7 separate regions of the Homo sapiens genome follow, and all the other regions are linked to region 1. The links come from fine-mapping of genetic effects on gene expression. A gene starts in region 1. Each other region holds a variant in brackets. All regions are shown on one strand. Distances are between the middles of the regions.

The links.
Region 2: its variant is fine-mapped to the expression of GALNT10 in whole blood (TOPMed, PIP 0.98).
Region 3: its variant is fine-mapped to the expression of GALNT10 in whole blood (TOPMed, PIP above 0.99).
Region 4: its variant is fine-mapped to the expression of GALNT10 in ovary (GTEx, PIP 0.95).
Region 5: its variant is fine-mapped to the expression of GALNT10 in whole blood (TOPMed, PIP above 0.99). The same link has a PIP of 0.9 or more in blood mononuclear cells and spleen.
Region 6: its variant is fine-mapped to the expression of GALNT10 in whole blood (INTERVAL, PIP 0.97).
Region 7: its variant is fine-mapped to the expression of GALNT10 in whole blood (TOPMed, PIP above 0.99).

Annotation. Positions count from the first base shown.
Region 1 is chr5:154,188,945-154,193,010 of GRCh38, reverse strand. GALNT10 (polypeptide N-acetylgalactosaminyltransferase 10) reads right to left here and starts at 2,278. Exons shown (of 12, transcript NM_198321.4): 1 at 1,986-2,278. The coding sequence starts at 2,144. LOC124901118 (a long non-coding RNA gene) reads left to right here and starts at 2,932. Exons shown (of 2, transcript XR_007059010.1): 1 at 2,932-3,015. RefSeq lists silencers at 1,983-2,042, 2,113-2,192, 2,283-2,392, 2,403-2,502, 2,593-2,682 and an enhancer at 2,903-3,868.
Region 2 is chr5:154,317,852-154,321,917 of GRCh38, reverse strand. All of the region lies in intron 3 of GALNT10 (polypeptide N-acetylgalactosaminyltransferase 10), which reads right to left. Among named protein-coding and RNA genes, the nearest start is that of MIR1294, 27 kb to the left of the region's middle. RefSeq lists a silencer at 2,901-3,020. The variant G/A (reference allele first, on the strand shown) is at 2,558.
Region 3 is chr5:154,282,068-154,286,133 of GRCh38, reverse strand. All of the region lies in intron 1 of GALNT10 (polypeptide N-acetylgalactosaminyltransferase 10), which reads right to left. Among named protein-coding and RNA genes, the nearest start is that of MIR1294, 63 kb to the left of the region's middle. RefSeq lists a silencer at 151-445. The variant G/A (reference allele first, on the strand shown) is at 2,123.
Region 4 is chr5:154,244,559-154,248,624 of GRCh38, reverse strand. The region is part of intron 1 of GALNT10 (polypeptide N-acetylgalactosaminyltransferase 10); the gene reads right to left. Among named protein-coding and RNA genes, the nearest start is that of GALNT10, 56 kb to the right of the region's middle. RefSeq lists a silencer at 3,933-3,982. The variant T/AT (reference allele first, on the strand shown) is at 2,482.
Region 5 is chr5:154,402,208-154,406,273 of GRCh38, reverse strand. GALNT10 (polypeptide N-acetylgalactosaminyltransferase 10) reads right to left here. Exons shown (of 12, transcript NM_198321.4): 8 at 2,063-2,170. The region is part of intron 2 of SAP30L-AS1 (SAP30L and GALNT10 antisense RNA 1); the gene reads left to right. Among named protein-coding and RNA genes, the nearest start is that of SAP30L-AS1, 42 kb to the left of the region's middle. RefSeq lists a silencer at 881-930. The variant T/C (reference allele first, on the strand shown) is at 2,247.
Region 6 is chr5:154,261,412-154,265,477 of GRCh38, reverse strand. All of the region lies in intron 1 of GALNT10 (polypeptide N-acetylgalactosaminyltransferase 10), which reads right to left. Among named protein-coding and RNA genes, the nearest start is that of GALNT10, 73 kb to the right of the region's middle. The variant TC/C (reference allele first, on the strand shown) is at 2,520.
Region 7 is chr5:154,394,071-154,398,136 of GRCh38, reverse strand. The region is part of intron 7 of GALNT10 (polypeptide N-acetylgalactosaminyltransferase 10); the gene reads right to left. All of the region lies in intron 2 of SAP30L-AS1 (SAP30L and GALNT10 antisense RNA 1), which reads left to right. Among named protein-coding and RNA genes, the nearest start is that of MIR1294, 49 kb to the right of the region's middle. RefSeq lists an enhancer at 1,710-2,430. The variant C/T (reference allele first, on the strand shown) is at 1,998.

The DNA.
Region 1 (4,066 bases):
TCTCCCTGCCCAAAAGTCTGCCTTACTCTATCAATACCCTCTTGCACAAGTGAGTAATTTACTTTGAAAGCTCAGGCCAAACTGGCAGTTAACCTTGACCTTCTCTACCCATCTGGGTCTACAGAAATGAAAATCAGGATGTCTTTGGCATCTATTGCAAATGAAATACGAGGTCTTTCTCCAAGCAGAGGCAGAATGTCAAGCACTATTTTAGAATGGGCTACAGCTATTCTAAAGGAGAGTTTGCACTAGGGTAGGACACTCCCCCTTGACCTGGAGCTGTGTCCAGTATGGAGCCTCCACAGCTAGGGATGCTACAAGGAACTCTGGACTCAAGACAGAAAAAAAGAAGGGACCGTTGTATTCCTCATTGATTAACTGATAGTATCACAGAATGTTAGAACTGGACCAATAATCATGGTTTACAGACCAAGAAAGTAAGGCTCAGAAAAGGAGATGAAAGGTGATCAAGGACACACACAGTAAGTTAGTGGTAGAGCTGAGGTCAGAACCCTGGAACTCCTGACTCTGATGCTGGTACTGAATAGGAACAGAGGAAAGAGATTTCATGAACGGAAAATCCATACAGATACAGAATTTCAGGGAGAGAGGTCTAAGCTAGCTGTCAGGGTTTGAACCAGGGGTTTAGGAAAGAGATGGAAACCTTAGTTTCTAAACAGTAAGCTCTACCAGAAAGATCAATGAGACCCTCTGGGATGCTTTGCAGCAATTAACAGAGTTACAGGCGGAGCTCAAATTGGTCAGCTCTGTAGCAAAGAGCCCTCTGTGCTCCAGATGCCAGACTGCCTAGACAGCAGCCTGATACTGGGAAGAATAAGGAAAACCATCAATCTCAGAAAAGCCAGCCTCTTTCGTCGAGGCCAGCCAACAGTCAGTCAAGTCTGACCCTGATACACAAATTATCCACTTCTCATGGGACCAGAGAAATCCCGTAAGAAAGCCTGAAATGTTCCACTATATGAAACAGTCTAAGCAATACACTCACTAGCACCTCCTGGGAGGGTGGGAGTGATGTGACAGAGCTTCTGCTATGAGGGAGCTGCTAGTCTAAATGCGTGCACGCACACATACACACAAACATACGTGGGTAAGTTCAAAGGAGGCAGAAACCATTCCGATCCCAGTTTTGGCTGCAATAAACACTACAACTAACCAGACTAGACAAGTTCAGAAGAGATAGGGAAGGCTTCTGGTGTTCCATCCTCAGGACACTGGGCACCAATAGCCTCTGGGACATTTTGGGGGTCCCCCCACCAGAGCCCCACCTCTGGACTCCCATAAGGTCAAAGGCAGCAGGTCCCTCAAGGACCAGGAGCTTACCCCCTTCTCCACCCCCAGGGGCTTGAAGCTTTAAAGGGAGCATGATCTTTACATTCTGCAAGGAATCCACAGGATCTGAGAAAGGAAAAGGCTAGAGTTGGGGCGGGGGTGTTGAATAAATGGGGAGAGGAGGAAGGCCCGGGTGTCTCGTTGGGCAGATGAGAAATCAGGAAAAGGGCTGACCTGAGCAAAGAACACTGGGATCAGCAGGTAGGGGTTGTGGGGGGGGGGGGGTGGGAGGAGGGAAGCAGAGAGGACCTGGACACCAAATAGAAGAACCAGAATCTTCATTCCTATTGGCACAAGGCAGGAGTCATCCTGGGATACAGGGATGCAGATAGGATCCTTCAAAAGAGATCCGCTGGAAGACGTCAAGGAATACCAGACGGGGACAGAAAGGAAGGTGGTAACATGTGGTGAGAAATAGCGTCCTGAGTGCTAGTTCGGACTCAGTCTCTGACTGGCGTGGGACCCTGGACAAGTCCCGACAGGACTTAATTTTCCCATCCGGAAAATGGGAAGAGCTGAAGAGTCTCGGAGCTGACTCTGAGGAGGCAGACAGCAGAAGGTGGAGGAAGGAACCACAGGCTAAAAGTGAATTCGGGAAGGGGGTGTTCCCGGCCTGTAGCAACGGGGGGACTCACCTGTCCCGCCGCCGGCGCCACCGCCGCCCCCGATCCCCCAGGGGTGCCGTCGGGCTGCCGCTCGCGGTACAGCGCCCAAAGCCCCACGTTGGGCAGGAGGACCAGGGCCGCCAGCACCAGCGCCACCGCCTGCAGGAGCCGCTTCTCCTTCCGCCTCATCGGGGCCGGTCAGCCCCGCCGCGCCCCGCCGGCCCCGCCGCGCCGCCCCCAGCTCCGCGCGTCCGCCCGTCCGCCCGGCGGCGGCAGCAGCTCAGCCAGCAGAAGCGGCTGCGGCGCCGGCCCCGCTCCAACTCCGCGGCACTTCCGCCGCTCGCCGGCCGGGGAGCTGGGCGCCGCCACCACGCCGCCGCCACGAGGGGGTCGTCGCCGCCGCCACCGCCCCCGGGCCCCGCCGAGCCGCCCGCCCCGCGCCGCCTGCCCCCGCGTCGACCGCCGAGTCTCTGCGCTGCAGGCTCGGCCCTCTCACGGAGCGTCTCGGCCCGCCCGGGCGCTGCAGGATGCCGGGCCGGAGCGCTTCCCCCCTCTCGAGCCGCGATGGTCCGTCCCACTCCTCGGCGGCTCCCCCGCCCTCTGGAGCTTTGCGAAAGTCCCGGAGTTGGCGAGTTGGGCGCTAACTGGTGCGGGCTGGGCACCGCTGGGTGGGGTGCATGTCCGCTCGCCCGGGTACCCTGCCGCCCCGCCCGGCAACCTCCGCCCGGGACTGCAGCCGAACCTTTGCTGCCTCCCTGGGGATATGCAAATAGTGCTGGGGCCCCGCCGGGCGTTCTGAGCCTGGAGCCCCCGGGGCTGTCACTTCCAGCCCACCTAGGCTCGGCCCCCAGGACCTGCGGACCTACTTTGACCCCGGCGACTCGGTGTTCCCGGCCATGAAACGGGGCCACAGCCGTGCTGCACGCTCACTGTTCCGCGGGCGGGCCCTGGTTTTCTTCCTCTAGGGGGGCCCTGGCGTTAGGTGTGAACGCCCTCTGCAAACTGTAGGGAGCTGTGCCCGGCCGCCGCCCGTCTGTAGATCCTGCAAACCGGCGGGTGGGTAAGTGACGGTAGCCTCTCTGCAGCACCTTTCCTCACGCAAGTCCAACCCCCTTGGAGTTAGAATGCCCTGCATTCTCACGCGTGCTTTTGGATCCTAAGCGCACTGAGCCCTTCCCGGAAAGCTCTCAGCAAACCGTTGGCGAGCGCCACTATGTGCCAAACACTGTGCCAGGCTCTGGGATGAAATGAAAACAGACCTGAGCCCTGACGTCTGGGAGCTGAAACATGAAACACGTAATTTCACTAGACCAGGCAATGTGTCTGTAACTGTGGCGAGGGCTTTGACAGAGGAGTCGGGCTTCTGGGCGATGCGGAGGGCCGTGGAGCCGGACTCCGACGGTGATGCCAGCCAGCGGCTCCTCCTCGGGGCGCTCGACGCTGGTCACTTAGCTGCCTCCTCCCTGATGCGGTGGAACGGAGCACCCCCTTGGCTACCTTACTCTCTGCCACCCCCACATTCGTCCTCTTGATTCTCTGCTTCTCTAGCTCAGCCGCTGACCTTCGTGCCTAGCTGCCACTAGTCCTTGACCAGCGTTCTGGCAACTCTTGCCTCCAAGTTCTTCCAGCTCCAGGCTGAGCGATGGGGATTCAGTTTTCTGACATCACAGCTCAGTTCTTGATTTCTGCAGCAAAACCTTCAAGGCTTCCATCACCTCGGCTCTAGAGTCCATCATGCTCCTCTCCTATGACCTGCTAGGGCTGATCAAACGTTCTGTCTCCTGCCGTGCCCTGCCCTGCCCTGCCCTGAGCTTCGCTTAGCCTGTTGCAGGCTTTGTGTTTTCCTTCTTGTGCTGTTGACCACGCAGCTCCTTCTACCCATAAAACCCCCTTCTCTAGGTCGGTGGAAATCTTGTTCATCCTTCCGTGTCTAGTTAAACTGCCACCTCCTCCACGAAGCCTTCTAAAACTCCTCCTCAGGGAACTGTTTTCTTTCTTTAGATTTCCATCACAATAATGCTTACCTTTTATTGAGTGCTTACTCTATGTCAGGCAGCCCTTGAGATGCATTACCTCTTTAAATGCTCACAGTTACCCTGTGAGGTACATGC
Region 2 (4,066 bases), 130 kb before region 1:
ACCCCTCATTTCTGGTTTTTCTTAAACTTGGGCAACACTGACCCCAGAGTCTCATGCAACAGCAATGGGCTGGAGGTGACAGTGGGTGCCCCTCTCTAGGGGGCAGGTGCTGTCTAGGGGGCAGGTGCTCTCCAGACACTTCGGCTCTCACCACAGCCTCACACCAGGGCAGCTTCAGCTGTTTCATTCCCTCATGTTAGCTCCCAGATCCCTGGCGATGCTGGAATCTGAGAGCCTGGAAGTAAAAAGCATCAAGGGAAGGGGCTCCAGAGACTGGTAACAAGTTCTGGGGGTGGCCAGGTGCAGTGGCTCACACCTGTAATCGCAACACTTTGGGAGGCTGAAGCAGGAGGATCACTTGAGCTCATGAGTTCAAGACAGCCTAAGCAATATAGTGAGACCTCATCTACAAAAATAAAAAAAACAAACTAACAAAAAAACAATTAGCCGGGTGTAGTGGTGGGCACCTGTAGTTGTAGCTACTTGGGAGGCTGAGGTGGGAGGATCATTTGAGCCTGGGAGGCAGACGAGGTTGCAGCGAGCCAAGATTGTGTCACTGCACTCTGGGTGACAGAGCGAGACCGTGTCTCAAGGAGAAAAAAAAAAAGTTTTGAGGAGAAACTTGTGACATCTCAGGGCAATGCATGTAACAACAAAGTCTCTTTGTATGCCATTGCAATCTACTGTTCAACTGTCAAAATGGGCAGGAGTCACTTTGCAACTTACTTTGAAATGCATCAAAACGTATAGTGGATTGAGGGGTGGAGAGAGGGTTAGATAGAGATGTGATCAAGTAAGTAAACCAATGCTAATTATGGACATGATGGGAACATGGGTGTTCGCTGTATAATTCTTTCAATTTTTCTGTATGTCTGATAATTTTTAGAAAGAAATGCTGAGGGAAAAAACAGGTCAGAGTCCAGAGACTTCTTAGTTTCAAATTGTACCTCTGCTAGAGGCACCAAGGGAAACTGTGGGAGGGAAGATATGTCCTTGCCCTGACTTAACCGTTGCATCTGGCAGAGAGCTCATTCCAGCTGTGTGAACAGGACTCCCCTGATTCCAGTAGTCCAGTTCTGATGGAAAAGTCAGCCTCTCTCCCTTTGGGACCTTCCAGACTTCCTTCACATCCTCTCTTGCTTTACCATCTTGCTGGCCTCTTTTTATCCAGTCCCCACACAGCCTTCCTCTGCCCTTTCCCCTTCTCTCTAATCCTTTTGATCATTTCATCCAGCATTCTCTGGGAATCTGCTCCAACTTCATTATGTTGGCCTTCACAAATAAATGAAACCACCCCTTCTTAAAAATCCCCTTTCCTTAACTCAGCTGAATCCTTTGCGGCCAAGAAAGACTGGTGATATCTGGTTTTCTACAAAAGTTCCTGCCTTAACATCTAATTTCACAGGAGGCTTGCTTGATTGAAGCAGGGTTGGGGGCGGGGTGGGGTGTTAGCTATAATAAATTGCCTGGGGTCCACGGGTGAAATACAATATAGCTATTACACAGCAGAAAGCCCTCACTCACTCCAGGCCCAGAGCCGGGCCCCACAGCCTGCAGTTAGACACACAAACACCATCATGCATTAAGGGAAGTAGACAAAGCCACAATAGACTAAATTCACTTCTAATTTAATTCAATCATGGAATTAAAGATTATTCAGAACTCAAATAAAAGGCTCAGCTTGGATCACAGCCCTGAACGTGTGCCTGTCTTTTAAATTTTTTTTGATCTCTCTTTCTCTCCCTCCTCTATCCATCCATTCATTTCCTAAATAAACACAAAACTTAAATTCGACTTTTGCCATGAGCACTAGTCATTAGTTTGGTCCCAGCTTAGTAGAGGTTCTTTGTTTAAATAAAAAATTGTGTGACCTGCTCAAATTAATCTCTCCAGTATCCAGCAGGGTACCTGGCTCTATAGACCTGCCCACAAGCCACCTTCCAGTTGAGAGCCCAAGCAAAGCCCCTTTTCTCCGCCTCTTATTAGGCTGCAGATCACAGCAGACAAAGGGGACCTGGGGACGACACAGAAGAAAATAGAAAGCCGCCACTCACACCAGTGACACTCCCATCTTAGCAGCCCCACTTAAGACTTGTCTACATGTTGTGTTTTAGGATCTCAACACTGGATGGTGGAGTGTGCCCTGTTCTTTTGTGTATGATAAACAAGAAGCATCCTTTTGTCCACATGTCCTCAGAAAGGAGCCACAGGGAAAGGGGCCTAGGGCACTGCTCCCATTGCAAAGAGGCTGGGCATGGCTACCACTGTGGGCCAGGCAATATAACCTCTGCTGCCTCATGGCTTACGCCTGACAGTTTAGAGAGCACTTTTCCCTCTCTCTCCTCTAATCTGTACCATATTCAAATGAGGGAGATGAAGCAGAGAGTGTTAACCCCATTTTCCAGATGAGGAAAATGGAGCTCAGAGGGGTAAATGAGTTGGATTCAGGCCTCAAATCCAGGTAGTATTTATTTAAAATAATATTTTTTAAAAATTTCAAAAGTGATCATTGCTAAGCACAAAAGTCTGGAAGACAGAGGGGCTCAAAGGAAAACTG[G/A]CAATAGCAAACATACTGTCCTGCCGCTAACATGTGGGGCTGATCTCTGCTAAACATTTGGGATGTGTCCTCTCTGTGTTCTCCTCTGCACATGTGCATTTGTTTTTACAACATGGCATAAAGCACACAGACTCTTCTGTGTCCTCCCTCTGTTTCCCTCACCCTAGATGGCATCCAGGTCTTTGTGGGCTTCCACATGCAGCGTGGCCTCCTGAGGTGCTTGGAAGAGTCTCTCTGGGGTCAGGACCAGGCAGAGTGATGGTCCAGCTGAGGGTCAAAGCAATGGTAGTCTGAAACTTCCAGCACACAACCTCAATGTTGAGGCCCTCTTGAATCAATACTTCTGACCCCCAAAGGTACTGTGAAAGAAGAGACTTCTGTGGAGTTTAGAATTTTGCAACTGAGAGTTGGTGGAAACATTTTCTCTGTTGCAAAAGCACTTTCACTATCCTTTGGTTTATGGTCTGATTAGGTTTCAACCCTGAATGCGCAAAGCTTAGTGAGAGGTGTACAGCACAGGGACAAAGACACACAATTGGGGATGTTGATTGACACACATTGAAATAGTGAAAAGAGCAGAAACAGTGAATGTCCACCAATAGGGGAAGATTAAATAAAAGATGAAAAATTCAAACTATGGAATGCTGATAAGCAGTTAAAAAATAAGGCAGAAAGTGACAATGACAATAATAGAAAACATCTGTTGAGGATTTCCAATATGCCAGACAGTGCTGTAGGCACTTAATATGCATTAAGTCATTTAATTGTCAAAATAATCTTACAATGTAGGGAATATAATTCTCATTACAAAGAGGAAGAAACAAGATAGAGAGAAGAAACTTGCCTATGGTCAAATAGCTGGCAAGGAATGAAGTCCAGATTTAAACCCATCTGTCTTTTATATATATATATATATTAGTATTTTATAGGGATAATTTATCAATCCTATTAATTGTATCAGCAAAAAAGAATGACTAGCTAAAAAGCAAATATTGAGGAAACTAAGTAGGTGTTTGAAATCGTGGCTTCTAGCCTTTGCTCTGCCATGCAACAATCCAAGTCAACAATCCATGCAACTGAGGTCCCAGCTGGACCTCAGTTTCCTTTTATGTCAATGAGGGAATGGGCAAGTCTGCATTTCTTCTCTTTCTCTTGGTAGCAGCAACCCGATTTTCCTTGGGGAATCTCCTACACCTCACCTGTATAGGGCTGGGGTGGAGCTGACTCATTCCTTGCCTTGAGGGTGGCCAAAGGAGCCTGGCTTAGCCAGTCATAGCATGTCACCTCTCCAGCCCCGTTATAAGTAGTTCTAGGACAGGCACCTGCAAATCAGAGAAAGTCTTTGCTGAGACAACTGGGAAAGACGCAAGTTCTTTTCTGTTGAGATTGAACATGGGAGGATATATATCTGGTCTGCCTGGGGCAACCATGTGGACTGTTCCTTGCCTCAGAATGAAGTTAACAGAGTGGAAAACAGAGCCAAGAGTTGGAGAGAGAGATTCCTACTGG
Region 3 (4,066 bases), 93 kb before region 1:
ATTAAAAAAGCTACAGTGGCAGGCCATAAAAGAGGGGTACATGGTACAAAGATAGTCCCTTTCTTTCAGATCAGACTGGGGGGATCTGATCCAGCCTGCAAGGTTTTCTTGAGAAAATTGGATTACAGGTTAACTCAGTAGAAAGAGGAGTACACAGCATTCCAGACAGAGGGAAAAGTAAAGATATGCAAAGATTCTGTGGCTGAGCAAACATGAATCATAGGAGGGCCTGGAAGAGCAGTGTGTGTGGTGCACAGAGAAGCAGGGAAAGTCTGGTAGGAATGAGAGGTGGACAGGGGTGAGGATTCTGTCTTTCCTCCAGGAGCATTTAGAAATACAAGTGTTTTCTATAAGGAGGTGATAAGATCAGGTTGCATTTGGAAAGCTCTCTTGTAGCCAAGTGGAAAAGGGATTAGGAGGCCAAGAGGAGGGGTGGAGGCTGGGAAGGAGGCTATCACAGTGGTGCAGGCAGAGATGATGTTAGCTTATGCTGGGAAGGCAGAAGTAGGGGTGGGCACACACAGATTTTTTTTAAAAATAGGGTTACTAGGGTCCTGTGGGTTTGAGTCAAGAAATAGAGCCTGAGAACTTGGACAGTCAGGTGAGAAGTTCATCTGTAAGAGCTGGATATCAATAGTCCCACAGATGCAGGTGAAACCCACCTGGGACCTGAGCCCAGCTCTCCCCTCACCTAGCCTGGTGTCTGTGTCATCACATGTTACTTTTAAGTTTCAATACTGTCCATAGAAAGCAAGTCAGGAGATCAGACCTAATGAGATAGGATTTTATGTCTATTTCACCTTCAAGAATTCAGTGACACATAGTCAAGAAAGAAGAGAGAAATCCTACAAGGGTGGTGGTGAGCCTCCCGTGCTCATGCAGAGTGTGCCTTTGCCCTCACAGTGTCCCTGGAGGCCCCAGTTCTCTCTGGCCCCTGGAAGTGTGAGCGCTCTGTGCTGGGGGAGCCTACTCTAGGAAGATAAGTATTTTCATTACCTCAGAAGGCACTGTGATTACTTCAACCAAAGAAACAGTTATCACTGGTGTTCAAGCTGGATTTAAAACTGCCCACACTGGACTTTTGAGAGGTGGTGTGTCTTCATATTCCATGAGCGATTGTCAAGGGTGATTCTGATTTTGTGTTATTTTCACCTTAAGTGGTGGGTTTATTATAGCCTAACTCTTTCATGAGATTAGACTTGACTATATTATTATCGTCATTATATCCACTTTGTAGATGACAAAACTGAGGCTTGGAGAGAAAATCGATATGAAAGCGTTTTGCAAACTGCCAACCACCACATGAGTGTAATCATCACAGCTAATAGCACCTACCACATGTACCTGCCCATTCCTTCCCAAACTCAGTATCTAGAAAGGCTGCAGGAACATAGCCCTCAAATATGGAAAACGTGCTGAGATGAATCATACTTCTGTACCAAGAGGGCAATTCACAAGAGGTTTTGAAAATCTCAGTCTAGCTGATGTGTGATCAATCACAGGAAAGCCCCTAGAAAGTGCTCTTCTTAGAGGCTTGACGGGCTGGGCAGGAGCAAGGGCTGCAATATTGCTCTGCACAGCAGCTGTGGATGGGTAAAAAGAAAAAAAGGAACTGGAAAGCTCATCAGAAGGCAAGTTCCTACTTTTCAGAGAGAGACTAAAAAATGACTGCAAACACATCCTATTAATCTCCTAGCTGGGTAAGTAGGGTTGAGCCACGCAGTAATAAAGTACTTGCTCTAATAATAGTAATAATTATAATCATAATCCCCTACATTCTGAAGACAGCAGACCAAAGTGAAGAAGACCATCTGCTTTGGCATCAGAAATGCCTAGGCTTGTGCCACAGTTCTGTTTATTAGCTCTGTGATCTTGGGCAAGTTACGCTATTTTCACAAGCCTTGGTTTCCCAACTGTAAAATGGGGGAAATTAATAGTACCTAGCATAAAGGTTATTATGAGGATTAAATGAGATGCAGCAAGTATAGCTCTTAGCAGTGTTTGGTATCTAGAAAGCACTAGCAATGCTAGCTACCATTATTAGTTACTATTTGGTAGTATTTTATAATTTACAAAGCATTTTTATATTTATGTCCCATTCCTTCCTCTCAGTTGCACCAGG[G/A]TAAAAGCAGACATCACCAACCTATTGTAATATCCTTCCTTGTGGATCCCAGACTTTGAGAATCTTTCTCAACACTGTGCTCCAAGCAGCGCTTACCCATCAGCTGGCATTGGTCAGGGGACAGGACCCATCTGCCACAGCTGCCTTAAGCTGGAAGAGTGAATTTCCAAGTACACCTGGTAGACAATGACCCACTGGTTGATTTCCACAATCTTGGCTCTTTGGGCTGGCTGGCTGCTCACTGCTTGCAAAGGTCCCCCAAGAGGGGGAGAGGGGTAGGGGCATGGGGAAGCAACATGTGACTGATGGTAGTCCCCTCCTCTTTGGACTCCTTCCTGGCCCAGGAGGAAAGTCTCTGCCTGGACAATGATGTTGGCCTCCTCCATCTCCCATCTTGGAAACTGAGAACTCTCTGAACTCTTCTTCTTTGTTTCTCTTAGGGTGGAGGCCACAAAAGGCTCTGAATCTCCTGGGCAGCACCCAGCCCCTTACCTATCCCACCTCACTCTCACTCTGTCACTCTGGTATTCTTGTTTTTATTTATTTATTTTTTTTAAGAGATAGGATCTTGCTCTGCTGCCCAGGCTGGCTTGCAGTAGCATGATGATAGCTCACTGCAGCTCCAGCCTTGACCTCCTGGGCTCAAGCAATCCTCCTGCCTCAGCCTCCCAAGAAACTAAGACTACAGGTACATGCACCACCACACCTGGCTTTTTTTTTTTTTTTTTTTTTTACAGACGAGGTCTTATTATGTTGCCCAGGTTGGTCTCAACCTCCTGGCCTTAGGTGATCGTCCCACCTGGGACTCCCAAAGTGCTGAGATTACAGGCGTGAGCCATCATGCCCAGCCTCTCTTGTTCTTATATAACGATTTCTTAGATATATGGTGTCCCAGGCAGGATGTGTGAGGTGCAACCACAAGAGAGCACAAAGGACAGTCTTCCCAGACCACAGCAAACTGCTATGAATGCAGATGCTCCCACAGGAATCATCTAAACCCTCAGGCAAGCTTCCCTAACCCCTCTGGCTAGATCACTGCCCCTGATATGGGACCTTACAGCATCCTCACTGCTCCTTTGTGACTTCACATTCATTTGGATGATCATTTGAATATTGTCTATCTCTCCCCAAATTGTGAGCTCTATGAGAAGACATCAATTTCTGTTGAATGAATGAATAATGAATGAATGAGTGGAGACATCTTTTATCTTTTCCAGATGAAGGAAAGGTCACTCAAGGATTAGACATGTCTAATATAGTCCAAAGATTTAATACCATAAAAGGGTTCTGAGGATTGACTTTATCCTATGACTAAATGGCTTCAGGTCAACTTAATGGGCTACAAAGCTCAAAAGAGAGCTGGCTCACCTGATCCTAAAATAATTTTTAAAAAGATGCAACAGGCTTTGAACTCTTCCACCTTCTTCCTTCTTTCATTTTCAAATGGTTTCCTTTCTGGATTCCTAACTAAGGCTTGTGGCAGAAATTGCTGTATATCCCCTAGGAGCTGTTCTTTTCTTCCACAGTAATAAGAATTTTAGCTGGGAATATGATTGCTCAGAATAAAGATGATATTTTCCTGACATCCTTGTAGCTAGATGTGGCTTGATTGGGTTCTGTCAATGAGAGGCGAGTGGAGGAGCTGCATGGTAGCCTGCTATGGTTTGAGCATGATCCCCAAAGTTTGTGTGTTGGAAACTGAATCCCCAGTGCAACAGTATTGGGAGGTGGAACCTTTAAGATGTGATTAGCTCATGAGAGCTCTGCCCTGACGAATGGATTAATGCTGTTATGGAGAGAGTGGGTTAATTACTGTGAGAGCAGCATCCTTATAAAGGATGAATTTGGTCCCAACCATCTCTCTCACCCATGTGATGCTTTCTACCACCTTATATCGCAGCAAGAAAGCCCTCACCTGATGCTACCCTTGATCTCGGACTTCCC
Region 4 (4,066 bases), 56 kb before region 1:
CCATCAGAGAATACTATAAACATCTCTATGCAAATAAAGTAGAAAATCTGGAAGAAATGGATAAATTCCTCAACACATACACCCTCCCAAGACTAAACCAGGAAGAAGTTGAATCTCTGAATAGACCAATACAGGCTCTGAAATTGAGGCAATAATTAATAGCTTACCAACCAAAAAAAGTCCAGGACCAGATGGATTCACAGCTGAATTCTACCAGAGGTACAAGGAGGAGCTGTTACCATTCCTTCTGAAACTATTCCAATCAATAGAAAAAGAGGGAATCCTCCCTAACTCATTTTATGAGGCCAGCATCATCCTGATACCAAAGCCTGGCAGAGACGCAACAAAAAAAGAGAATTTTAGACCAATATCCCTGATGAACATCAATGCAAAAATCCTCAATAAAATACTGGCAAACCGAATCCAGCAGCACATCAAAAAGCTTATCCACCATGATCAAGTGGCTTCATCCCTGGGATGCAAGGCTGGTTCAACATAGGAAAATCAATAAATGTAATCCAGCATATAAATAGAATCAACGACAAAAACCACATGATTATCTCAATAGATGCAGAAAAGGCCTTTGACAAAATTCAACAGCCCTTCATGCTAAAAACTCTCAATAAATTAGGTATTGATGGGACGTATCTCAAAATAATAAGAGCTATTTATGACAAACCCACAGCCAATATCATACTGAATGGGCAAAAACTGGAAGCATTCCCTTTGAAAACTGCCACAAGACAGGGATGCCCTCTCTCACCACTCCTATTCAACATAGTGCTGGAAATTCTGGCCAGGGCAATCAGGCAGGAGAAAGAAATAAAGGTATTCAATTAGGAAAAGAGGAAGTCAAATTGTCCCTTTTTGCAGATGACACAATTGTATATCTAGAAAACCCCATCGTCTCAGCCCAAAATCTCCTTAAGCTGATAAGCAACTTCAGCAAAGTCTCAGGATACAAAATCAATGTGCAAAAATCACAAGCATTCTTATATACACCAATAACAGACAAACAGAGAGCCAAATCATGAGTGAACTCCCATTCACAATTGCTTCAAAGAGAATAAAATACCTAGGAATCCAACTTACAAGGATGTGAAGGACCTCTTCAAGGACAACTACAAACGACTGCTCAATGAAATAAAAGAGGATACAAACAAATAGAAGAACATTCCATGCTCACGGGTAGGAAGAATCAATTATCATGAAAATGGCCATACTGCCCAAGGTAATTGATAGATTCAATGCCATCCCCATCAAGCTACCAATGACTTTCTTCACAGAATTGGAAAAAACTACTTTAAAGTTCATATGGACCCAAAAAAGAGCCCGCATTGCCAAGTCAATCCTAAGCCAAAAGAACAAAGCTGGAGGCATCATGCTACCTGACTTCAAACTATACTACAAGGCTACAGTAACCAAAACAGCGTGATACTGGTACCAAAACAGAGATATAGACCAATGGAACAGAACAGTGCCCTCAGAAATAATGCCACATATCTACAACTATCTGATCTTTGACAAACCTGACAAAAACAAGAAATGGGGAAAGCATTCCCTATTTAATACATGGTGCTGGGAAAACTGGCTAGCCATATGGAGAAAGCTGAAACTGGATCCCTTCCTTACACCTTATACAAAAATTAATTCAAGATGGATTAAAGACTTAAATGTTAGACCTAAAACCATAAAAACCCTAGAAGAAAACCTAGGCAATACCATTCAAGACGTAGGCATGGGCAAGGACTTCATGTCTAAAACACCAAAAGCAATGGCAACAAAAGCCAAAATTGACAAATGGGATCTAATTAAACTAAAGAGCTTCTGCACAGCAAAAGAAACTACCATCAGAGTGAACAGGCAACCTACAGAATGGGAGAAAATGTTTGCAATCTACTCATCTGACAAAGGGCTAATATCCAGAATCTACAATGAACTCAGATAAATTTACAAGAAAAAAACAAACAACCCCATCAAAAAGTGGTCGAAGGATATGAACAGACACTTCTCAAAAGAAGACATTTATACAGCCAAAAGGCACATTAAAAAATGCTCATCATCACTGGCCATCAGAGAAATGGAAATCAAAACCACAATCAGATAACATCTCACACCAGTTAGAATGGCAATCATTAAAAAGTCAGGAAACAACAGGTGCTGGAGAGGATGTGGAGAAATAGGAACATTTTTGCACTGTTGGTGGGACTGTAAACTAGTTCAACCATTGTGGAAGACAGTGTGGCGATTCCTCAGGGATCTAGAACTGGAAATACCATTTGACCCAGCCATCCCATTACTGGGTATATACCCAAAGGACTATAAATCATGCTGTTATAAAGACACATGCACACGTATGTTTATTGCAGCACTATTCACAATAGCAAAGACTTGGAACCAACTCAAATGTCCAACAATGATAGACTGGATTAAGAAAATGTGGCACATATACACCATGGAATACTATGCAGCCAAAAAAAA[T/AT]GATGAATTCATGTCCTTTGTAGGGACACGGATGAAACTGGAAACCATCATTCTCAGCAAACTATCGCAAGGACAAAAAAAAAAACACCGCATGTTGTCACTCATAGGTGGGAATTGAACAATGAGAACACATGGACACAGGAAGGGGAACATCACACTCTGGGGCCTGTTGTGGGGTGGGGGGAGTGGGGAGGGATAGCATTAGGAGATATACCTAATGTTAAATGACGAGTTAATGGGTGCAGCACACCAACATGGCACATGTATATATATGTAACAAACCTGCACGTTGTGCACATGTACCCTAAAACTTAAAGTAAAAAAAAAAAAAAAAAGCGCTTAAGATATCACCAGACATCCCTGGCCAGGCCCACTTTTATCCCAGATGCTTACCATTTCCATTGTTTATTGACGTCCATAATATTTCAAATGAATTAATCATACACATCCTCTTTTCATCATTACCTGGTAGACTAAATGCTTAGATTCTCCCCTCTGATTGTGGCTTACATATATTAATGTATTAATATATGAAGATCACAAAGTGATAAAAGTGTTCAAAAGGTAGAATTTATTAAAGGACGACTATATAATTAAAAAAAAAAAGCCAGAGCTCGGAGTCCCAGCTATATGACTCATTCACTGTGACCTGAGGACAAGTTTGAACCTTTCTGAGCTAGTTTTCTCAGCTGTGACATGGGTAGAGCAAGCTTACAGGGGTAGTACCCACTGGTGAGGATAAAATGAGATCACCCATGTCAGGTGCTTAGCACCATGCAGGGCACATAGCTAAGTGCTCAATGCACAACAGCTGTCATTGCTAGCCTCAACATCACCTGTCCCTCACCTCCCCGTATCCGACTGGTGACCAAGTCGTGCTGACTCCACCTCTTGGACTCTTCTGTCCTCTCATCCTTGTCTTTGCATGCCCATCCTCACTGCCACCATGGTGGCTCTAGTTGTCATCTCCACCCCCTTGCATCACCACACAAGTCTTCAACAGCTCTCCTGGACTCCAGTGTCCATTCCAGCCTGCTTTCCAGGCTGACAGCCCAGTGAGCTTTCTAAATTGCAAAGCTGTGCAGCTCATTTTGCTGCATGAGCTTCCAGAATCCCTGCAGTGGCACCCCATGGACTTCAGCTCCAAGGAAGAACCCACAGGCCCCTGGTGATCAGCACCCCCAATCTCTATCTTACATCTAGGTCTCCCCTCAACTCCATGTTCCACACTTAAGGAGTTTTGAGACCACCAAAAATGGTGAACTTTTCATACTGTGCTGTGTTCTCTCTGCTGGGAAAGTCCCAACCTCCATTTGCCTAGAAAACACACATTCATCTTTGAAGATATACCCCAGCAGTGATACCTCCTTGAGACCTGGTTCCAGGCTGAAGTGGCTGCCCCTGCTTTTTGCCCTCTCTGGCTGCTGCCTTTGCTTCTCTCACAGCACCTGTTCCCCTTTACTGGGCTCACGTGTTTTCACATCTGCCACCCTTGCTGTCTGCCGGATTATCACTCCATCCTGGGCAGTCCTCCAGCATAGAGAAAACACTCTTAACTAACTTATTACACGGATAAGCACTGAAC
Region 5 (4,066 bases), 210 kb before region 1:
TGCCTAAACACAGAATTTAGATAAGACTTTTAAATACATGTTCCAGTCTTTATTGTTAATATTGATGCTAACACTAATAACAGCAGTCACTGTTTAAGGAACAATTGCTATGTGCCAGGTACCTGTCAGACCTACACAGGTTTGAATTCTGGCACTAGTTACTTAATGTTTCCATCGCCAACATCACGTTTCATGTTCCCCATCCCTAAAATGGGGTTAAAAACAAGTGAGAATTAAGTGAGATAAGTAAAATGCTTTGCATGCCTGGCTCGAAGGGAATTTTTATAAGTATTACTACAGTTAGCTCTTATCCACTGAATTAATCTATAATAATGGTTCTATAACAAGCAGGAGGCGGTAATGTCTCTTTATCAGGTGGGCCTTTTAAAAAAAAAAACAACAGCAACAACAACAACAACAAACTTTCTTTGAGACATGGTCTCGTTTTGTCACCCAGGCTGGAGTGCAGTGGCACACACAGCTCACTGCAGCCTCGACCTCCCTGGCCCAAGTGATCTTCCCACCTCAGCTTCCTGAGTAGTTGGGACTACAGGCACACACCACTGCGCCCGGCTATTTTTATTTTTAGGTGAGCCTTATCAACAACAGCTCTGCAGAGGAAAAGAATGCTTTAGGGTTGCTCCTGGTCTGGAGTTGGAGTGTCCCCATGGTCCCTTGTAGCCGGAAGAGTCTCAGTCTTGGGCGTACCGAGAGAGCGTGCGCTTTTCCTGCCTGGCTCCCTCCTCAGGGATCGCCAAATGGCCTTTCAGAAGAACGCGATTCCTGCTTCAAGGGACTGAACCTAGAACCTACCCCCCGCCCGTGTCGGATGGGGCTGTGGGCAGCGCGGATGGCTGGTGAGGGCGTCGTTAGGCTCTGCTACCACTGGAGGGCACTGCCGGCTCTCCTTTCCCTCCACGCGGCCCCTGACACTTCCCGGAGCTCAGCTCCCACCCACTGATGGCTCTCAGGGAGACGCGCGGCCTCTTTGAGCCTCTCGGCTTTCCTTGTAAGTCACAGGACAACGCTCTTCTAGGTCCCGGGGGCTGCAATTCTACACGTCAAGGTTGTCAAGTGGAGGAGGAGGCAGCGCCCTGGACAGGAGGCAGTGCGGTCTAATGCCAACCCGGCCAGCACCGGGGTCTCCTGGCCGGGGCGGGGCTCACAGGCTCCCCGGAGGGAAAGCTGTGCGGGGGTCCTTTCCAGCTTCCCCGCAAGGCTCTTTCTATCCTCTGGGGACCCTCCCTCCTCTTCATTTTTCTTTTGTGGTCACCTGGATTTATTTATTTTTTTCCGAATACATTTAATATCCAAACCAAAAACAAACTCTGGCTGACAGATTTCCATTTGCAGCCAGTGGCCAATTTAATTGAAGCAATGATTGATAGAAACCATTTTAAGGCAATGAAACAGTTTGACATGCAGAGGTTTTGGCAGTAAGAGTAGACAGGGGGTGAGGAGAAGAGAAAGACACTGACATTTATGAAGCCCACTTCCCCTCCAGAAATTTAGTACGCAAGCTTTCCCAAACACACCACACCACACCACCTGTATTAATATTTATCTAACATGTTTTTTTACATCACCTCTGGTCTAACTTTGCACCTACTTTAGCTGTATGCTAAGTAATAATATCTGTGAAATTACAGGTTAGCTACACGAATACACATTAATTTAGAATCCACATTAACTTAAACACATGAACAAGAAAACATTCCTGTGTTTGCTGCCTAAGATCGTCTCCTCTGTCACACTCTGGGAAACAGTATCACCTCCTTAATTCTCCTGGCAATGCTGGGAGTTGGAAAGAATTAGCTCTCTTTAAACAAAGGAGGAAACACAGGTTCAGAGGACTTAAGCAACCCTCCCCAGGTCACATAGCAATGAATGGTTAAGTAGGGATTTAAGGGAGTTCTTTTAAATCAGATTTCACCTGGAGAATGGGAGGCACATCCTCAAACCCAGAGATCACATAACACAGTCTAGGGCCCCAGGGTGCCTCAGTGCAGCTGATGGTCCTAGGCCAACCCCTTCTACCCGCCAAGGAAAGCCACCACCTTACCCGGGCCAGGCTGACTCCGGCCGGGACCTTGTAGGGCACATACTTCCTGTAGATATGGCCCACCCTGGAGCAGGGGATGTCCTCCATGCGGCCCCCACACATCCACACCTGCATGGCAAGAAGGAAGAGAGAGGATGACGTTTCTGCTTCCAGTTCACCATCCCGCCAGGCCAGCATCCCTTAG[T/C]GCACTCAGCAAAAGCATCAGCCTGGATTGTCTGCTGAAGCCTGGATCACAGACCTAATGACATGGGAAAACACAGTAATATAATAACAGCGGTAAAAACAGCTGACAGCACTGAGTGCTTACCATTGCCACACACTATGCTAAGATGGTCACATGCACAACCACACTTAAGCCTCATCAGAAAACCTATAAAGTAGGTAGTAACATTTTACAGATGCTGAAATGGAGGCTCAGAGAAGCTAAGAAATGTGACTCAGGTCACAGAGTAAGTGGTGGAGCCAAAATTTAAACCCTGTTTTAGCTGACTTCAGAATCTGAGCTCTAATCCACTATGGAGTGCTGTGTTGAGAATTCTAGGGTGGCATCGGGGGATCAGTGGGAAAGACCATGGTGATCACAAAGTGACATCAGCCACAGCATAAGTAGTCAAGGTGGCACACAGGTTCCGTAGATTTACTGTCACATATTTATTTTCCTCCTGGATCTATGAGCCTCTCGCTGGGTCTCCCTGAGCAGTTCCGTCAGCCTCCCTGCCCTGCCTTCTCTGAGTCTGGCTTGCTAGGCTGTGCAGCTGGGTCTTGCCGCAGTGTGGGATCTGATGGTTCTCTTTGCCTCCCTCTCCCAGGGAGGAGTATTTGACATCACAGAGAGCTCCTGAGTTTGCCCACTGGTCTGATAGCAACTTGGGAATGTGAACATGTACAGCCAATACTGACTCATACCCACTGAGGGGCCCAGCCTACATAGACCCTCCTTGGGAGGCCTGGGTTTGAATCCTGGCTCAGCCACTTACCCACTTGATGACTTTGGCCTACACAGACCCTCCTTGGCAGGCCTGGGTTTGAATCCTGGCTCAGCCACTTACCCACTTTATGACTTTGATTAAGGTACTTAACTTCTCTGAGACTCAGTTTCCTGTAAAGAAATAGAGGAGGCAGGACTGGAAGATGAGATATTGTGTGTAAAAGGGTTTAGCACAAGATCTGGTGCATACTCAGGACACAGCAGTGAATCAGTCAGCCGAGGCCCCAGCCTCCGAAGTGGCCTCACAATCCCTGCCTCCTCGTATTTGTGCCCCTGTGTAGATGCCTCCCAGTGAGTCACATGAGGACTGACCTGTGTAACCCACAGGATACTGCAGAAATGACGGTCATAAAGATGCCGTGGCTTCCACCTTTCTCTGTGGGACCGCTGGCTTTGGAGGAGCCAGCTGCCATGTTTGAGGACACCCCAGCCATGCTGTGGAGAGGTCCATGCGGTGAGAGCTGAGGCCTCCTGCCCACAGCACTAATTTGCCAGCCAGGTCAGTGAGCCACCAAGAAGCAGAGGTCGTGGTCACAGTCAAGCCTGCAGATGACTGCGGCCCTGGCTCATGGCCTGACTATTCTCCTATGCGAGACCCAAGGTGGAGCTATCAAACCAAGCCACTCCCAAATCCCTGGCCTAGGGAAGCGCTGCCATCATAACTGTGTATTGTGTTAAGATGGATTCTGGGGGTAATTTTTCCTGGCATAGGTAACTAACATGGGAGATGGTTTCAGGTGGCGATGGCAGAGCAGGGCCATTGCATAGATTCGTTGTAGGGGTGTATGGGATGTGAGAGATGCTACTTTATGCTCCCCAGTCAGGGAAAGCCTCACTTCGGAAGGGATGTTTGAGGTGGAACCAAGAAGGTGAAAGTAAAGGCAAGGGAACGGGTGGGAGAAGAGCAAGTGCAAAGGCACCAGGGCAGGGCCAAGCTTGGCATAATCAAAAAGAAAGCCAGGGCAGGAGCAGAGGGAGAAAGGGGAAGAGGGATGGGAGGGGAGGCCAGAGACGCG
Region 6 (4,066 bases), 72 kb before region 1:
TACACTGTAAAAGCAGTAGTTGGTTTAAAGACTTTTGCAAATGCTCCTGAGTGTATTTCCTGGGTAGCCATGAGGTGTGAAATCAGTGGGCTTCTCTTGTGAAAGGCCTTGTCAGCATCAGGAAATTGAAGACATTCTGAGGTCCCTTATTTCCTGAGGTCCCTTCCAGGTCTACTGTTCTCAAGTAGGGTTTCACCCTTTGTTCTGGAAGGGATGTGCACAAATTTTCCTTCAAGACTGCATGACACCCTGCTGATTGTCTGGGGGAAGGGGAACAGGGAACTAAAGTCTTGATATGTTACCACAAGGCTCCCTACATCCATTCCCAAACTATAAATACTGCAAGAAGGGGAGAACATGTAAGGTTTAGAATACTCATCAAGAAATCTGTCTCTCCAGAAATTACGCTCGCTGGCTATTTTAGTGTTTCCCTTAGAGACTGGTAAAGAAAGTCAGCCTAACTACTGCCCCTGGAATGATCCTAGAATGAGGTCAGGAAGGGAGCTCTGACTGGTGTTCCCATTGGCTATAATTTCTGGCCCACTGGAAGTCATAAGAAAGCCCACTCTTTTGACAGTTGGCATGAAGAGCCCACAGTATTGGGCTGTAGATTTCAGGCACTCTCTGAGAACTGCTAAGTGGGGGTCTGTACGGCTTAGAAATGCAATTGATTTCATCCAAGAAAAGAGGAAACAAGTGTTCATTTATCCTTGTCTTGGACAGAGACCAAAGGGTCACTGTGGACAGCCAAAAGCCCTTTGACTTATCTCTGTCTCTTGGTATTCTAAAAATTCCACCTCATTGTCTTGTAAAAATACTATGTGTTAGCCTACAATTTTGAACAATTTCAATAGAAAAGTTTTAAAAAGAGTAAAAAGATTTACTCTTCTTACTCACCAAGATTTACCGATTGTTAATATTTTACCGCATTTGCTGTCTGCCTATATATACATTATATACATTTTTTTTCTGAGTCACATGGAAGTAAACTGCAGATATCATAATGCTTGGTCACTGAGTACTTCAGCATGCATCTGTCGAGCAAAGGAACATTCTCCTATATAACCACAATTCTATTATCACATTGATATAAATTATTATCTAATACATACTCCATATTCAGGTTTCCCATTGTCCCCCAAATCACTTTTTTTTTTTTTTTTTGGAGACAGAGTCTTGCTCTGTCTCCCAGGCTGGAGTGCAGTGGCATGATCTCAGCTCACTGCAACCTCCGCCTCCCAGGTTCAAGGGATTCTCATGCCTCCACCTTCCAAGTAGCTGGGATTACAGGCATGCACCACTGCGTCTGGCTAATTTTTGTATATTTAGTAGAGATGGCGTTTTGCCACATTGGCCAGGCTGGTCTCCAACTCCTGGCCTCAAGTGATCTGCCCGCCTCAGCCTCTCAAAGTACTGGGATTACAGGTATAAGCCATCACACCCAGCCTTTTTAAAAGTGACATATAAATCACATAACACAAAATTTACCCTTTTAAAGCATACAATTCAGTGTTTTTTAGTATTCTTATAAAGTTGTATAAACATCAACGCTATCTAATTTCAGATTATTTTCATCATCCTAAAAAGAAACTCTGTACCCATTATGAGTGCTATGGTGTGAATGTTTGTGTCCCCTCTGGAATTCATATGTTGAAATTCAAATCCAAAGGTAATGGTATTAGGAGGTAGGGCCTTTGGGAGTGATTGGGTCATGAGGGCTTGGATTAGTGCCCTTAGAAATAAGACCCTAGAGAGATTGCTCATCCTTTCTACTATGTAAGGGCACAAATAAGAAGGCACCGTCTACGAACTAGAAAGCGGGCCCTCATCAGACACTGAATCTGCCACTGCCTTGCTCCTGGACTTCCCAGCTTCCAGGAATGTGAGAAATAAATTTCTGTTGTTTATAAGCTATCTAGTTTGTGGTCTTTTGATATAGCAGTCTGAATAGACTAAGACAATCAGTCACTCCCCTTCTCCCTCCCCTGAGCCCTTAGAAACCATAAATCTACTTTCCATCTCCAGGGATTTGCCTATTCTGGATATTCCGTATAAATGGAATCATGCAATACGTGGTCTTTGTGTCTGGCTTCTTTCACGTAGTATAACGTTTTCAAGGTTCATCCATGTTGTAGTGTGTATCAGTACTTCATTCCTTTTTACAGCTGAATAATATTCCACAGTCGGTATATATACACATATTTTATAAATCCACTCATAAGTAGACATTTCAGTTGTTCCCACCTTTTGTCTACTATAAATAATGCTGCTATAAACACTCATGTACAAGTTTTTCTGTGGCCATCTGTTTCCATTTCTCTTGGGTATATACCTAGGAGTGGGACTGCTGGGTCATATGGTCACTGTGTGTTTAACCTTTTAAGGAATTGCCAGACTGTTTTCCAAAGTGGCTACATCACTTATAGAACCACCAGCAATGTCTGAGGGTTCCAATTTCTCCACGTCCTTGCCAACACTTGTTATTGTCTGTCTCTAAATTGCTTTTATAGCTTTTTTTT[TC/C]TCAAACCAAGATCCAATCAGGGATTCTGCATTATATCTAGTTACCATGTGTCTTTCATTTTCTTTAATCTGGACCAATTCACCAGTCTTCTTTTGCCTTTCCTGATGTTAACATTAAAAGAATAAAAATGGGGTCTAGTTCAGAAGAGGGATTTATTCCTGATTCTGATAGGATCCTAAAGCACCCTTCTCTTGCCCATTGCACTGACAACTTGAGGGTCTTGAGGGTGCAGCCTCCAGGGAGATAAAATGGAGCCCAGCTTAGTGCTGAGCACAATGACCTAGTGGCTCTTACCTGGTAAATGCTTCTCAACCTCTTAAAGCTTCTGTTCAGCATCAACAGGGAGGCTCAGGGGAAGGACAGCAGGTCAGACTGAGGTGGAGAAGAGCGTTTCTGATGGACTCTAGGGAATCTGAGTACCTGCTTCAAGTGGCCCTTGGTGATGCCTGCCTGGCTGGGCTGTCTTGAGTGATGGAGTTAATTGGGGTCACTGAACTACAATGGGGTGTAGCACTGGAGAATAATACCTACCAGCCCCACTGCAGTAATGAGCGCTGACATATATCACATTTCAGACTGTAGCTAATTAAATACTCTACAGCTTCTCCAACAGAAATGAAGATTTGAAGCACTGAGCTGAGAGGGACAGAAGGAGGGGTCCCGTGACCTAGCTCTGGCTTAGCCAAATTCCCTGCATTGATGCCAGGCAGGTAAATCAACCTGTCTGGGCCCCTCCCTAATCTACAATGCGGGAGAAAGGAATGCACATGAGATTTCTTTAAATGTTAGGGGTCTCCCATTCTAGGCAGGATACTGTCAGTTAATGTTACCGAAAATAACTCAAATGTATTCCTTGTCAAAGGAAAATTTAGGAAGAGCTAAATGCAATACAGCTAAAGCCTACAAGGTAATACTACCAGTAACCCACATGAACTATCTCTTCTCTTTTATGGAGTATCCCACGACTCTTCCATACATGCTATCTCCTTCATCCCCAAATAGGGCAGATAGATGTTATCATTCCCATTTTGCAGAGGAAGGCTCACAGATCTGAGGTTAATTCATTCATTCTGGGGCAATAATCATAAAGCATCCACCAAGTGCCAGGTGCTATGCTAGACCCTGATGGCACAATCGTAAGCTAAATAGGTACGGATTTTGCATTTTTGCTGTGAGCTTTCAACTGGGCAGGGAAGACAATAAGTAACAATAACAGGTAAGCACCACTTTCCTAAGGGAAATACAGGGAGTCCATGTGTGGGGCCCTAACCTTGGCTAGGGATTTGCCTCAGGTGTCATTCACAGAAGGTATGAGACCTCTGGTTCCTTCCTTCCATTCTACCAAGGCAGCAGGAGATATATACCTCCGGTAGTAGGAATAAAACTCTCACCTAGGGCCTGCTTAGCTGGTGGAAGAAAAGCAATGGAACACATTTTCCCTTGTTTGGTGCTAAACACAGAACTGTGGAATGAATGCACTTTAGTGTCCAAGGGGCTCATCTCCTAAAGCAACAAGTCCAGATAAGACTCAAGGGATCTTAGGGT
Region 7 (4,066 bases), 210 kb before region 1:
GTGGCAGTCTTCTCATAGAAGCACCATGCCTCTAGACAAGTACAAATCTAATTGTGAAAGCCTGTTCCCCATTCATTTTCATTGCTGCTTTGATTTATTTTATTAGCAAACTTCTTTTGTGTGATGACAGGCTTCATTACAGTGCCTATAAAAGACAATTACCCGCTCTTATCTCCTAAACTGAGGGGGAAAGAAACGAGTGGTGATGTGCATTGGGAAAACACAATGGGACCCAGAAAGAAGGGCGCAGTGGAAGGGATTGTCCATGGAGGGGAACCCGAGAGGGCAGGGGCTGGGGCAGAGCTTCTCTCTGTTGAGGAAATGGCTGCCTGGAAGCTAGCCAGGAATGGCACGGCACCCGACCTGCCCAGAGATAAGGAAAAGACTGGCAGCTGGCCACGGCTTTTGCCGTTGGCATCTCAGCTGAGGACCCCTATGAAGTTCAAACCCTAATCAGTTGCATTTGGGGGAAAGACTATACTAATAATTGCCACCAATCATTCAGCATTCACTGTGTGCTTAGGAGGCACATAGGGTAGCAGTTAGGAGCTTGGTTCTGGAATTAGAATTGAGGTCCCACACAGGCTGTTAAGCAAGTTTTATAAGTCTGAAAGCCTCAGTTTCCTCCTCTGCAAAATGGGAAAAATTACTGTGCCTACCTCCTTAGGGTTGTGGTGAGGCTAAAATGAGGTAATGTAGAAGCTCAGAGGACACCGTGAGCTATCCATATGGTGTCCTGTGGGCACGTGGCCCATCGCTACTGGTGGAGGGCGTTGCATGAATGCTACACAATTCCCGGCTGAAAAGAAACTCATATTATTTTGAATGTATTAGTTTGTTTTCAACAAGATATTGTTTCAAGAAGTATCACCACCATGAAAGGACAACCTCAGTCATGCTGGTTTTGGATGTTTACTGGATGCAGCTGGTAAAAAAAAAAAAAAAAGTAGAAAAGAACAACTTTAGTTTTAAATTTACTTCTAAATTTAAGCTGTATTTTTTTTTTTTTTGAGACGGAGTCTTGCTCTGTTGCCCAGGATGGAGTACAATGGCACAATCTCGGTTCACTGCAACCTCCGGCTCCCAGGTTCAAGTGATTCTCCTGCCTCAGCCTCCCGAGTAGCTGGGATTACAGGTGCCCACCACCATGCCCAGCTGATTTTTGTATTTTTAGTAGAGACAGGTTTTCCCCATGTTGGTCAGGCTGGTCTCGAACTCCTGACCTCTAGTGATCCACCCTCCTTGGCCTCCCCAAATGCTGGAATTACAGGTGTGAGCCACCGCGCCCAGCCTAGTATTTTTATATGATACAGTTTTAAGCATATGTGCATCTAAATTAATAAATTAAACATAGGACTATCTCAACAATATCCTTAAGTGTTTATAGTTAGTTACTTCCCCAACAAGGGCGAGATGGTTACTTTACATTAGGTTTTGACTCAGATTTGGAAATACAGCAATCTCACAGCAACCCAGCGAGGGAGGCATGATCACACCCTTTACACATGAGGAAACCGAGGTTTAATTAACACTTTCCCCAGGGTTGCCCAGTGCATAAATGGCAGAACCCAAAATGGAACCTGGGGTTGGGTCAGAACTAGGCAGATCTGAGAGTTCCACAGAGACTGTGTTTTCCTAAGGTCTGGACCCACCCTATCATGGTCTTCCTCAAAGATCCCTAACAGCACTTGTATTGTCTGCAGAACAAAGGGGTCACCCTTGGCTTGCAATCAGGCCCTCTGCCACCTGCTCCCACCTATCACCTCCTACCCTCTCCATACCCGCTGGACTCCCTATGTGGATGCTGCTGACAACTGGCCGCAATGCATTCACTTTTCTGCCCTGGGGGCTTGTGAATTTTTCTTTCTGTGACTGTTGAAACCCCAAACAAACATTAATTACCTAATTCATTCATTCATTCATTCATTCATTCATACATGATCTGGTCATTGGTCAGGTTTGTTCTAAAAACCATGCTGGAAAAAATGGAACAGAAA[C/T]GAACTGCCAAGGGTGGACCAAAGATACAGAGCCTTGAAAGCCGGGTGAAGGTATTGGAACTTGTTGGCCAACCTGCCAACCAACCTGCCCATTTACTCTGTCCTTCCACACCCACGCCTGAGCATCCTCTCTGCACAACCTCCCACCTATTCATTACAGCTGCGATTTTCAACCTTGGGCCTCATCGGAAGCACCTGCAGGGCATGTTGAAACACAGCTGGCTGGGCTCCACGGCAGCCTCTGACTCAGCAGCCTGGGGTGGAGCCTGGTAATTTGCATTTCTAATAAGTTCCCCGGTGATGCTAATGCTGCTCGTCCAGGGTTCACACCTTGGGAGCCACCGCGTACTGGAATGGTGACAGCGTCTCAGGTGACTGTGCCTGCCAGTTCACACTATATTTCCTAACAGCCCTGTGAATTTGGGATGATTGGTGCCCCTCTGTAGATGGCGAAATAAAAGTTCAGGAGAAAGGGCAGATGAGTCCAAGATCTCACAGAGAGTTTGTTCCAGAACAGGGCCTAGAGCCAAGGCCTTTTGACCTGTCTTGCCAGCCTCTTTCCACTCTTGTCTTCCTGCAACCACAGCCCGATCACAATAACCACAACCATGCTGACATTAACAGCTATCATTTAGCGAACATTTATTATGTTCCAGGCACTGAGCTAAGCTTTTAATATATTTTGGCTCATATCATGCTCACGACTGCACTATGAAGTAAAGATTATTCCATCCCCTAAATAATATAAAGAGGAGAGGTTAAGTCACTTTCCCAAAGTCACACAGCAGCTAGCTCATTGAATTTGCACTAGAACCCAGGCAGTTTGATGCTGAAGCCCATCTGTGTAATACTGTGCTGTTCTGCCTCCTTACCTGAGGGTTATGATCAGAACAGCTGCCACTTATTGAGTGCCTCCTCTTTGGTTAGCTCTAGGCCAAATATACATATCATCCCATTTAGTTCTTACAACAAACTTTTGAAGAAGTTATTTTATTACCACTTTTAGGGATGAAAGAGCCAAGGCACCATGAGGTAGGTGTGTGCTGGTTAGGGAGTAACATACACACAGGCGACCCTCGGGCCTTTGAGCCGTCTCCTTGGAGGAGTGGTGGGAGAAGCAGGCTCCACAGGCAGGGACACTCATGGAATTTCAAATGACTTGCCGAGAGTCATGAGCAGAATGCCTTCCCTGTTTCTAGCAGACGGCTCTTGCAAAGGCTGGGCATATGTGGCCCCAGGACGAAAATGCTGCATGTATCAGAGCATATTTCCATCATCCTTGGATAACACAGGGAAAGGAAGAAATGAGGACCAGGTTCCTGGCAGCCATGCTGCAGCTGTCCGAGGCAGAGGGTGCTGGTAGGGGCAGGGAAAAGGATGGGGAAATGTATTGCCATATAGTTGCCTGATGGTGGCCCTGGATATCCTTCTGGTGCTTGGGCTGGCCTTTGGCAATCATTTCTCCCTCCTGTGTGGCAACTTAACCCCTCTCAGGGCTGGTCCTGACCTCTGGGCCCTTCCTGGAACACGGGCCTCTCTTTAGACTGGATACACCTTTTCTCTACTCCTACCACCAGGCGGAATGAGATGAGCACTGGGCTTGGAGCCAGGGCATCTGGGATTTAGCCTTGGCACTGCCACCTTCCGGTGGAGGGACCCTGCCCAGTCACCTAACCGCTCTGGGCCAGGTTGCAATATCACCCTTGCTCAGCTTCTGGGTGTGTCCTGCCTTCTTTTCACACGTCCTGTTTCACTTAGTCTTCTTGATAACACTGAGTTTTATGGGAAAAAAAAAATCAGAGTTTTTTTTTTTTTTTTTTTAAGTCTGTTCACGTAGCCTGGGACTGGGCTAGCCTTTCAGTAACCATATCAGTATCACACAAAGCGAACCCCAGTCTCCTCTGAGTCTTCATTCCTCTACCCAGAGAATGGGTTTTCCTCTCAGAACAAGCTCAAAGACCTTCCTGACTTCTGCAGGGGAGGGTGTCCTCCCTCTCGTCCCCTCACATGGCTTTCTATCACTCCCTTGCTCCTGCAAGCCTGCCTCATGGAACCCTCAGACCAATCTC